Linked DNA regions of Homo sapiens: region 1 is linked to region 2. Evidence: fine-mapped expression QTL. Tissue or cell type: whole blood. Region 2 holds a variant in brackets; the other region holds the start of a gene. All regions are shown on one strand. Distances are from middle to middle. Region 1 holds the start of ABTB2 (ankyrin repeat and BTB domain containing 2). Region 2 holds the start of LOC105376622 (a long non-coding RNA gene).

What was found.
Region 1: it holds the start of ABTB2, and the variant in region 2 is fine-mapped to the expression of ABTB2 in whole blood (INTERVAL, PIP 0.98).

The regions. Positions count from the first base shown.
Region 1 is chr11:34,356,206-34,360,556 of GRCh38, reverse strand. ABTB2 (ankyrin repeat and BTB domain containing 2) reads left to right here and starts at 2,547. Exons shown (of 17, transcript NM_145804.3): 1 at 2,547-3,856. The coding sequence starts at 2,974. RefSeq lists a silencer at 2,362-2,561 and an enhancer at 3,512-3,621.
Region 2 is chr11:34,429,003-34,433,392 of GRCh38, reverse strand. LOC105376622 (a long non-coding RNA gene) reads right to left here and starts at 1,104. Exons shown (of 3, transcript XR_931180.3): 1 at 946-1,104; 2 at 276-381. It also overlaps the pseudogene CIR1P3. The variant G/A (reference allele first, on the strand shown) is at 2,566.

The sequences.
Region 1 (4,351 bases), 73 kb after region 2:
TATATATATATATATATATATATATATATATTCATCTCTATCTATCTTCCTCCTATTCTTTTTCCCATATCACACAAAACACAAACACAGACACATTCTGGGTTTACTTGGTACTGCCAGTCCTCAGGCTGACTAGAAGACTGAGGAAAATTTGAAAGACAAGAGATCTATCTACAGTCTTTCCTAACTTCCTAGTCCCTTTACCAGATTTTTCCATGAGGATTTGTCTTCCTTTTTTCCTTGAGGAAGCCAACTCTTGAGGGCTACAAAACACTTATTTCAGCATGTGTCTCTAAAAGATAAGAACATTTGATAAATATAACCACACTACCATTACCACATCAAAAAAAAAAAAACAGTTATTCTTTAAGAGCAAACATCGAGGCAGTGTTCCTAATGGTTTCATAATGTCAAATGTTTACTGGCTTTTTAAAACAAATTCAAAATACACATAAGTTCCACACCTTGTAATTGGTTATTATGTCTTTCAAGTCTCTTTAAATGTGTAGGTCTTCTCTCCATCTCTTTCTTTCCTTGAAACTTATTTATTAAAGAAACTCAGTTGTTTGTTCAGAAGCATTTCCCATGGCTGAATTTTGCATAATATATCTTCATGTTGCAGGTCAACATTCACAGGATTCTCAGATTCAGTTGGAGGCATGTTTGATTATCTACACTTTAAGTCATCAAGTAATTTGAATATATTAATATAAATCCCATAGGCTCTTTTTCCCACTCCAGATGATTCCTCCAATAACCTTTCATTCAGTAAGTTCCCCGTTGTAAATTTCCAGTTAAGTAATTCTCTTTAGGTTTGATGGGTGCGCACAACGAAGAAAAGGGGGGACAGGGAAACCTTTCTGAAATTCATTTCCTTTGAATATATCCATTAGAGGGCGACATTGCCTTTAATATTATATTTCCCCAATAAAGTTTTAAATTGCATAAAATTTACTTTTGTATTTTTGACAAGTTGGACCTCATTGCCTACTTTAATTTCTAATCTCACGTCTGTAAAGTGTGACTGCATTCTCCTTTGTTAGTTTGATCTCTGCTGACTTGCGTCTTTGGTATTACAGTACTTCCATCTTTGACTCTGTTCCCAATTCTAACCATCGGGCGGCGATGTTGCATAAATAAAGACCCGCGGAAAGGCAAAATTAAGCGAAACTGCCAAATAAAAAGCAGTTTCACCGGGGGTAAAGGCCATTAATTTAAGAAGGAAAGAGACAAACCAGACATTTCTAGTTCATATCCAACTCACGGCCCAAGGTCAGAACTGTGTAAAATGCAACACAAAGGAGCCATTCAGGAGTGGGGGAGGCTGACTTGGGGAGAGCGAATGCACAATCCCCGCCTTGAGCCTGCGGTTCCACTGGAGGGGGCACAGGTCCGTTTGCGCACGTGCGTGTGAGTAGCCACAGGGCAGCGGCGGGACATGCCTGCACCGGGCATGGGACTGCTGAACCAACAGCGCTCTGGCGGACCGTTTGGGACACCCGCCCGGAGGCAGGTTGGCACTGGCGCTGCCTGGAGGTCAGCCACTCATTGTACCCCGGAGGAACTGGGTCCCGCGGGGGCATACGGCTCGCCCACCGGCACGCGTTAGGAGGCGAACACCTGCATCCAGCTAGGTGTTCCGAGCTCAGCCCAGGGCGAGGGACTGCTCTGCCACCTTCTTCTCATTCTTCCTGTAAGAACACTGTCTATCTCGGACAAAAAGGACCCACCTGACAGCAAGTGGTATCGTCACACAGAGGTAACAGGGAAGTCACGGATCCTCTTGAGAATCTGACAAAAGTTGGTGCCCCTTCCCCATAGTGGCACTCAGAAAACTGCAGGTGAAACCACAAATGGGCGGAGGCACTCACAGGCTTCCTGGGGCCCGTCCATTGATCAGATACCAGGTTAAGAAATTCTGTCCTTATTGGAGCCTAGACGGCAGCGCAAAGGAACCAGACGGACTTGGAAAGAGAGGCAGGGACTCCCTCCTCCCTCCAAACACAGCCAGCGTTTCATCTCGGATTGCGGGAGGGGCCTGGCGGAAGGTGGAGGAGAGGTGGAGCGCCTGGATGGGGCCCTCCCCATTCTCCTGGCCCCAACCCCAGGACGCCTGGCTGCGGAGGGCTCGAAAGCGAGCAGCGAACGCCCAAAGCCTGGGTGGCGGGAAGGTGGCAGCGCCCTGTAGCTTTTCCTTTGCATTTTTCTTTAAATCGTGAGCTCCGGAGCTATCGTTTCGACCGCTGCTTTCCGGTCTCCACCTCCACCTCCCAGTTGGCTGGCTCGCCCTTCCCCCACCCCCCCATCCCCCCCATCCCCCCCCATCCCCACCCCCATCCCAGCCGCGTGCCCGACCCTCGGCCTCCAGCCCCGCCTCCTTCGCCGCGGGGTTTAACCCGAGGCAGAGTGAAATCTGCATAGTGACCGCCCCCTCGGAGATCATTGGTGCAGCCCCGCCCATCGCGGCCGGTGATTGGTAAGCCGCCCGGGGTTATTTGCATGTCGGACGCAGCCGGGTACCCAGCTGTGCTGCCGGCCGGCGCAGCGCAGAAGTTTGCAGAGCGCTTTCTCGCCGGCTGGTCCCGGACTCGCGCTGCGCCCTGCGCCCTGCGCCGCCGCCTCCTCCTTCTGCCGCCGCCGCCCTGTTCTCCCGGGATTCCTTCTCTGTGGAGGACTGACTCTCTGCTTGTGGGAATTAGAGGTGGACAAGGGGGAGTGCCGGGGGGTAGCGACGGGGTTCTTTCCAGTGGCAGCTGCGAGTCGGGACGCCGGGAGCGTGGGGCTCCTGCTGGCCACGGATCTCGGCCACCTTCCCGCGGCCTCCGGGCAGGCAATGCGGCCGCCGAGCCCCGCGACGCAGAGAGGAAGGAGGGTGGCCCGGAGGGCCTAGAGCTTGTTTCTGCCCACTTGGGAAAGAGGGCATGGAGTTGTGAGTGCCCCTCGCTCGGCGACGCCGCCCTCGGCAGGCTCCCCATGGCCGGGACGTACAGCTCGACTCTGAAGACGCTGGAGGACTTGACCTTGGACTCCGGGTATGGGGCCGGGGACTCGTGCCGCTCGCTCAGCCTCTCGTCCTCCAAGTCCAACTCGCAGGCGCTCAACTCTTCGGCGCAGCAGCACCGCGGGGCGGCCTGGTGGTGCTACTCCGGCTCCATGAACAGCCGCCACAACAGCTGGGACACGGTGAACACGGTGCTGCCCGAGGACCCCGAAGTGGCCGACCTCTTCTCGCGCTGTCCGCGGCTCCCCGAGCTGGAGGAGTTCCCCTGGACCGAAGGAGACGTGGCCCGGGTGCTCCGCAAAGGCGCTGGCGGCCGGCGGCTGCCCCAGTTCTCCGCCGAGGCGGTGAGGCGCCTGGCCGGGCTGCTCCGCAGGGCACTGATCCGCGTGGCCCGCGAGGCGCAGCGCCTGAGCGTGCTGCACGCCAAGTGCACCCGCTTTGAGGTGCAGAGCGCCGTGCGCCTGGTGCACAGCTGGGCGCTGGCCGAGAGCTGCGCGCTGGCAGCCGTCAAGGCGCTGTCCCTGTACAGCATGAGCGCCGGCGACGGGCTGCGCCGGGGCAAGTCCGCGCGCTGCGGCCTCACCTTCTCAGTGGGTCGCTTTTTCCGCTGGATGGTGGACACCCGAATCTCCGTGCGCATCCACGAGTACGCAGCCATCTCCCTCACCGCCTGCATGGAGAACCTGGTGGAGGAGATCCGGGCCAGGGTGATGGCCAGCCACAGCCCTGATGGCGGAGGGGCCGGAGGCGGGGAGGTGTCTGCTGAGGCCCTGGAGATGGTCATCAACAACGACGCCGAGCTCTGGGGCGTCTTGCAGCCCTATGAGCATCTCATCTGCGGCAAGAACGCCAATGGTAAGCGCGCGGGCCTCGGACTGGCAGACTGGGTAGGCAAGAAATCCCGCCCTGGGCTACTGGGGGAGTGAATTTCCTGAGACAAAGCTGGTGGCTGTGCCAGTTCTTTGGGAGAAAACGTTTGGTCTGAGGATAGGGTTCATTACATGGCACTTGCCAGAGATTGTTCTAAGGGTGTCTGACTTTTGGAGGGTAAACTTGTGAATGATCTCCATCCTGTTCTGCGTGGCATTGTTACTATCTGCGGGCTGTTCATTGATTGGGTGAGATTGAATCTCTTGACCAAGCCATTCCTGAACCTCTCTTGAAATGAAACTTACTGCCCCGTGGCTCTTTACCGTGATTGACTAGGTCTCTAGCTGCTGTCTTTCCCCAACAGCTGGTTAGATTGACTGATTCTGCCCCCTAGTTTTCCCCAGCTCAATAGCAGCAACCAAAGGGTCCCAACTTAAAGACCTGAACCTTGGATAAGTAAGATGGGCGGAGGGAAGTGGG
Region 2 (4,390 bases):
CAAAAAGAGCCTCCCAAAAAACCAACAAAATAGCATAGACAAGATCAAAGCTTATTTCTCTCACAATAAAGCATTTCAGACCTAAATGGTACAGGGCTGGTTAGGCAACTCTGCCATCCTCAATACATAGCTTCCATCTCTGAGTCCAATGTAGCTGCTCACTTGATCATAACTGCATGCCAGCCAGTGGGAAGGGGGACAAAGGAGCAAAGGGAGCCCATGTCCTTTCCTTTTTAGGGCACAATTTGGAAATAGCACACTTTATTTCTACTCACATTCCATTGGCCAGAATTTCGTCACATGGCTATGCCTAGCTATACAGGAAACCGGGAAATGTAGTCACTGGCTGGGTGGCCATGGGCTTGACAAAACTCAGGCATTCTATTATAAAAGAAAAGGGAAGTGAATATCGGTGGCTGATCAGCAGCACCGGCCACACTGACCTCCAAGGGTAGTTGGAGGTTTAGGGAAGATTATATGAACCATATGAGTTAGTTATCTGTATTATCTGATTATTAGTATTTCTATTTATTCTGGAGTGCCATGTAGCTCTTGTATGAGTTGCAACGCTGTTCAGAAAATACAGCAAACTTTGTTGTAGGATATACTATTATACTCATCCTTGCGGGATGTGCTGTAGTTCAGAGACTGCCTCTGGACACTGAAGTTTGGCTCCAAGGTCACATTATGATGAACAAAGGCCAACCACTGCCCTAAACCAAACCTTCCTATCCCACAAAACCATCCTTTCAAAACATATTTTGTTTAATTGACAAACACTTAATATTGCTCTTACTATGTCTAGGCTCTACACTGAGGGATTTTCCAATATTAACCCATCTAATCCTTATAACAATCCTATAAGAGGGAATGGACTCTTACTACCTTCACTTTACATCTGAGGGCACTAAGGTACAGAAAGGTTAAGTAACCTCCCGAAGTTACCCAGATAGTTTGCAATGGGGCCAGGATTCGAACGAGACAGTGTGGCTCTGGAGATCACATCTCCACTCCTACGTTGTTCTGCCTGTGACAAAGTGGGCAGGAATAAAGGAAGATCTTGAGTGAGTGTTCTACATTCTTAGAATTTAACTCCAGCATTGCACTACCCTCTGCCCACCTGAAGACGCGGTGTTACGGGAAGCACCCTGAGTAAAGCAATTGTGAAATCCATGTTTTGTACCCACATAGTTGAGAAGAACCACAAGAAAATGACATTCTTCTCAGTCTTTAAAAGACAAAAAATGGGAAGTTGTTATGGATTTGTAATATAAGAGCATGACAGGCCTAGAGAGCCACATGGGATTGAGGAACAGCCAAAGGCAGGAATGAGAGTGCTGGAGAAGAGGCAGCTTGCAGAGCAGCAAGGATGAAGGAGGAGGAGGAAGATCTCTAGCTGCCTCTCCTTCCTGACAGCAAAGGGCAGGCAGAGACTTAGCTAAACAAGTTCATTCAAAGAATCATTTTCCACCAAGCAAGAGGACCTGTTGCCCTGTATCATCTTATATGCAGCTCCTGTTCCAGGATACGTGGACATAAACAGATTCAGTTCTGAGACACTGTGACATGAAGCAAAATTCTCCTTCTTGTGTCAGATGTGGAAAGCAATTGCTCCAGGCAACCTGAAAATGAAGATCTATTTACTTCTTTTTTTTTAACTGAGAAAATAAAGAGAAACGTTATTTTATTTCCTTGTTTGTCCTCTATATAAATTCTGAAACAAATAAATCATGTCTAGTGCCTACCTGCCTCATCAGTGGGAACTGAACTTGCATTGATTCCAGAAAGACCAAACAAAGGACAGTCTCAATCTGCAGTGACATGATCCCATTTGTGACATTTAATGCAGTTCATATTTCTAACCTGAATATCAAAGGGCTAATTTTTTTTGTTTATGTGATCTTTGGCATATTTTTCTCATGGAGCTTCTTTCTGCCATTTAAATTTGTCTTCATTCTCTCCTGTTTTCTTTTTTCTCTGTTTCCTTTTTTAGCTCCTGGTGGGGCCTCACAAATGAAATTAAGGCCATTCTTTACACATTCATCTCCCATAAGCAATCTATTTTCATATGATTATTGTTCTTTAAGATACTGCTGCCTTCATTCTTCTTGTTTCTTCTTATCATATATTTTCTGTTCTGCCATTCATACTTTTTTTTTTTTTGAGATAAAAGTCTCACTCTCTCGCCCAAGCTGGAGTGCAGTGGCGCCATCTCCGCTCACTGCAACCTCCGTTCTCGGGTTCAAGTGATTCTCCTGTCTAGCCTCCTCAGTAGCTGGGACCACAGACACACGGCTAATTTTTGTATTTTTATAAGAGAGGAGGTTTCGTCATGTTGGCCAGGCTGGTCTCGAACTCCTGGCCTCAAGTGATCCGCCGGCCTCAGCCTCCCAAACTGCTGGGATTACAGGCATGAGCCACCACACCCGGCCCATTCATACTTTTTTGATACTGGATTTGGAGGCAAGATGAACATCCTTCTTGCACATGACATTGTCAGAGGATTTCCCCATCCTTGAGCCAGAGCTGGGGAAAGCAGTGGCTAGCTCTGTAAGCAACATAAAC[G/A]AACTACTTAGCAAGCACTAGCTTAATTCTCTGAAACTTTGTACTGGGATTTTTCCCAATCCCATCCCACCCAATATTCTAAATGTCAATGAATAACAATCACCGTTGCCTTTCTCTTGTCTGGCTGGCCCCTGAGGTGTGAAACAACTTACTCGATGGGCAAATTATAGATGATACAATATTAGGATTTGTATCATCTTTCTCTTAATGCCCTTTTAAACTCTGCATCCTCAAAAGAAGCCAGAAGCCACGTGGCTCAGCTTGGGGGCCTGTAGTTTACCATGTTGTCTTCTCAGGAAGACCTTTCTTGACCACTTCTTTTAATCTTATAGCTTCCTCTGGCACTTCCTGTCATGCCTTCCCTGCTTTGTGTTTTCTCTGTGATCCTTCTCCCTTTTAACATACTATATAACCGATTTCATTTGTTTATTGGGTATTTCTCCTACTAGAATAGAAGTCCATGAGGATTGGTGGGTTTTGTTTCTGGTTTTGAATTTTCTGCTTATTCTTAGCACCTGCAACAGTTTTCTGGCACCCAGGATATTTGACTAAATGAATGAACAAGCAAGTGAATTAATAGATGAGGTAATACCGGGATAAACCATGTTACAAATAACCAGAGTAAGTGACAATTTGCCTTGAGGGATTTGAGGGAGAATTTGATCAGATGCCTGGCTCAAATACAGATACCCTCCCATTTCATTTTTAAATATATTTTCCTTTAGGACTTGAGTACTTTCCCATATTCTCAAAAAGAGTCCTCTTTTAAAAAATAGATATATTGCCGGGTGCAGTGGCTCATGCCTGTAATCCCAGCACTTTGGGAGGCTGAGGTGGGCAGATCACCTGAGGTCAGGAGTTCGAGACCAGCCTGATCAACATGGAGAAACCTCATCTCTACTAAAAGTACGAAATTAGCCAGGCATGGTGACATGCACCTGTAATCCCTGCTACTCGGGAGGCTGAGGCAGGAGAATCTCTTGAACCAGGGAGGTGGAGGTTTCAGTGAGCCAAGATCATGCCATTGCACTCCAGCCTGGGCAACAAGAGTGAAACTCTGTCTCAAAAAAAAAAAAATAGATATATTACCCCCATTATGAACCTTCTGACATGGTACACCAGGAAGGACTCAACATCGCTTCTGTGGCATTCCTATCAAAAATGCATACTCTGAATCTAATCATGAGGAAACATGAGACAAACTCCAACTGAGGAACAGTCTACAACTGGCCTTTTCAAAATATCAAGATCATGGAAGTTAAGGACTAAAGAACTGTTCCAGTTTAAAAAAGACTAAGGAGACATGCCAACTAAGTATGAAGAGTGTTCCTGGACTGGGTCTTGGAACAGACGGAAAAGACTTCAGAAACATTATGGAGACAATTTATGAAATTTAATATGGGCCATAAACTTAATATGAATAAGAATATTGTATCAATGTTAAATTTCCTTGTTTTGATCATTAGACTGCAGTTATGTAATCTCTTACATCAGAGATTTCTTTTGTGTCTTAGAAAATACACATTGAAGTATTTAGTGGTAAAGAGGCATGATGTCTGCAACTTACTCTCAAATGGGCCAGAAAAAAATATACATCATATATATCCATATACACATGTAAGTAAAGAGAGCAAGCACTTGACAAAATAAATAGAGCAAAATCTGGGTAAAGGGTAAACTGGAGTTACTTATACTATTTTTGTAACTTTCTGCAACTTAGTATTATATCAAAGTAAAAATTTACAAATAAGTATACGTATATTCCTAGGGTGAGTCATACATGAGCATCTCAGGTAATACCTTCATTACAAGTTATTCAGTAGCT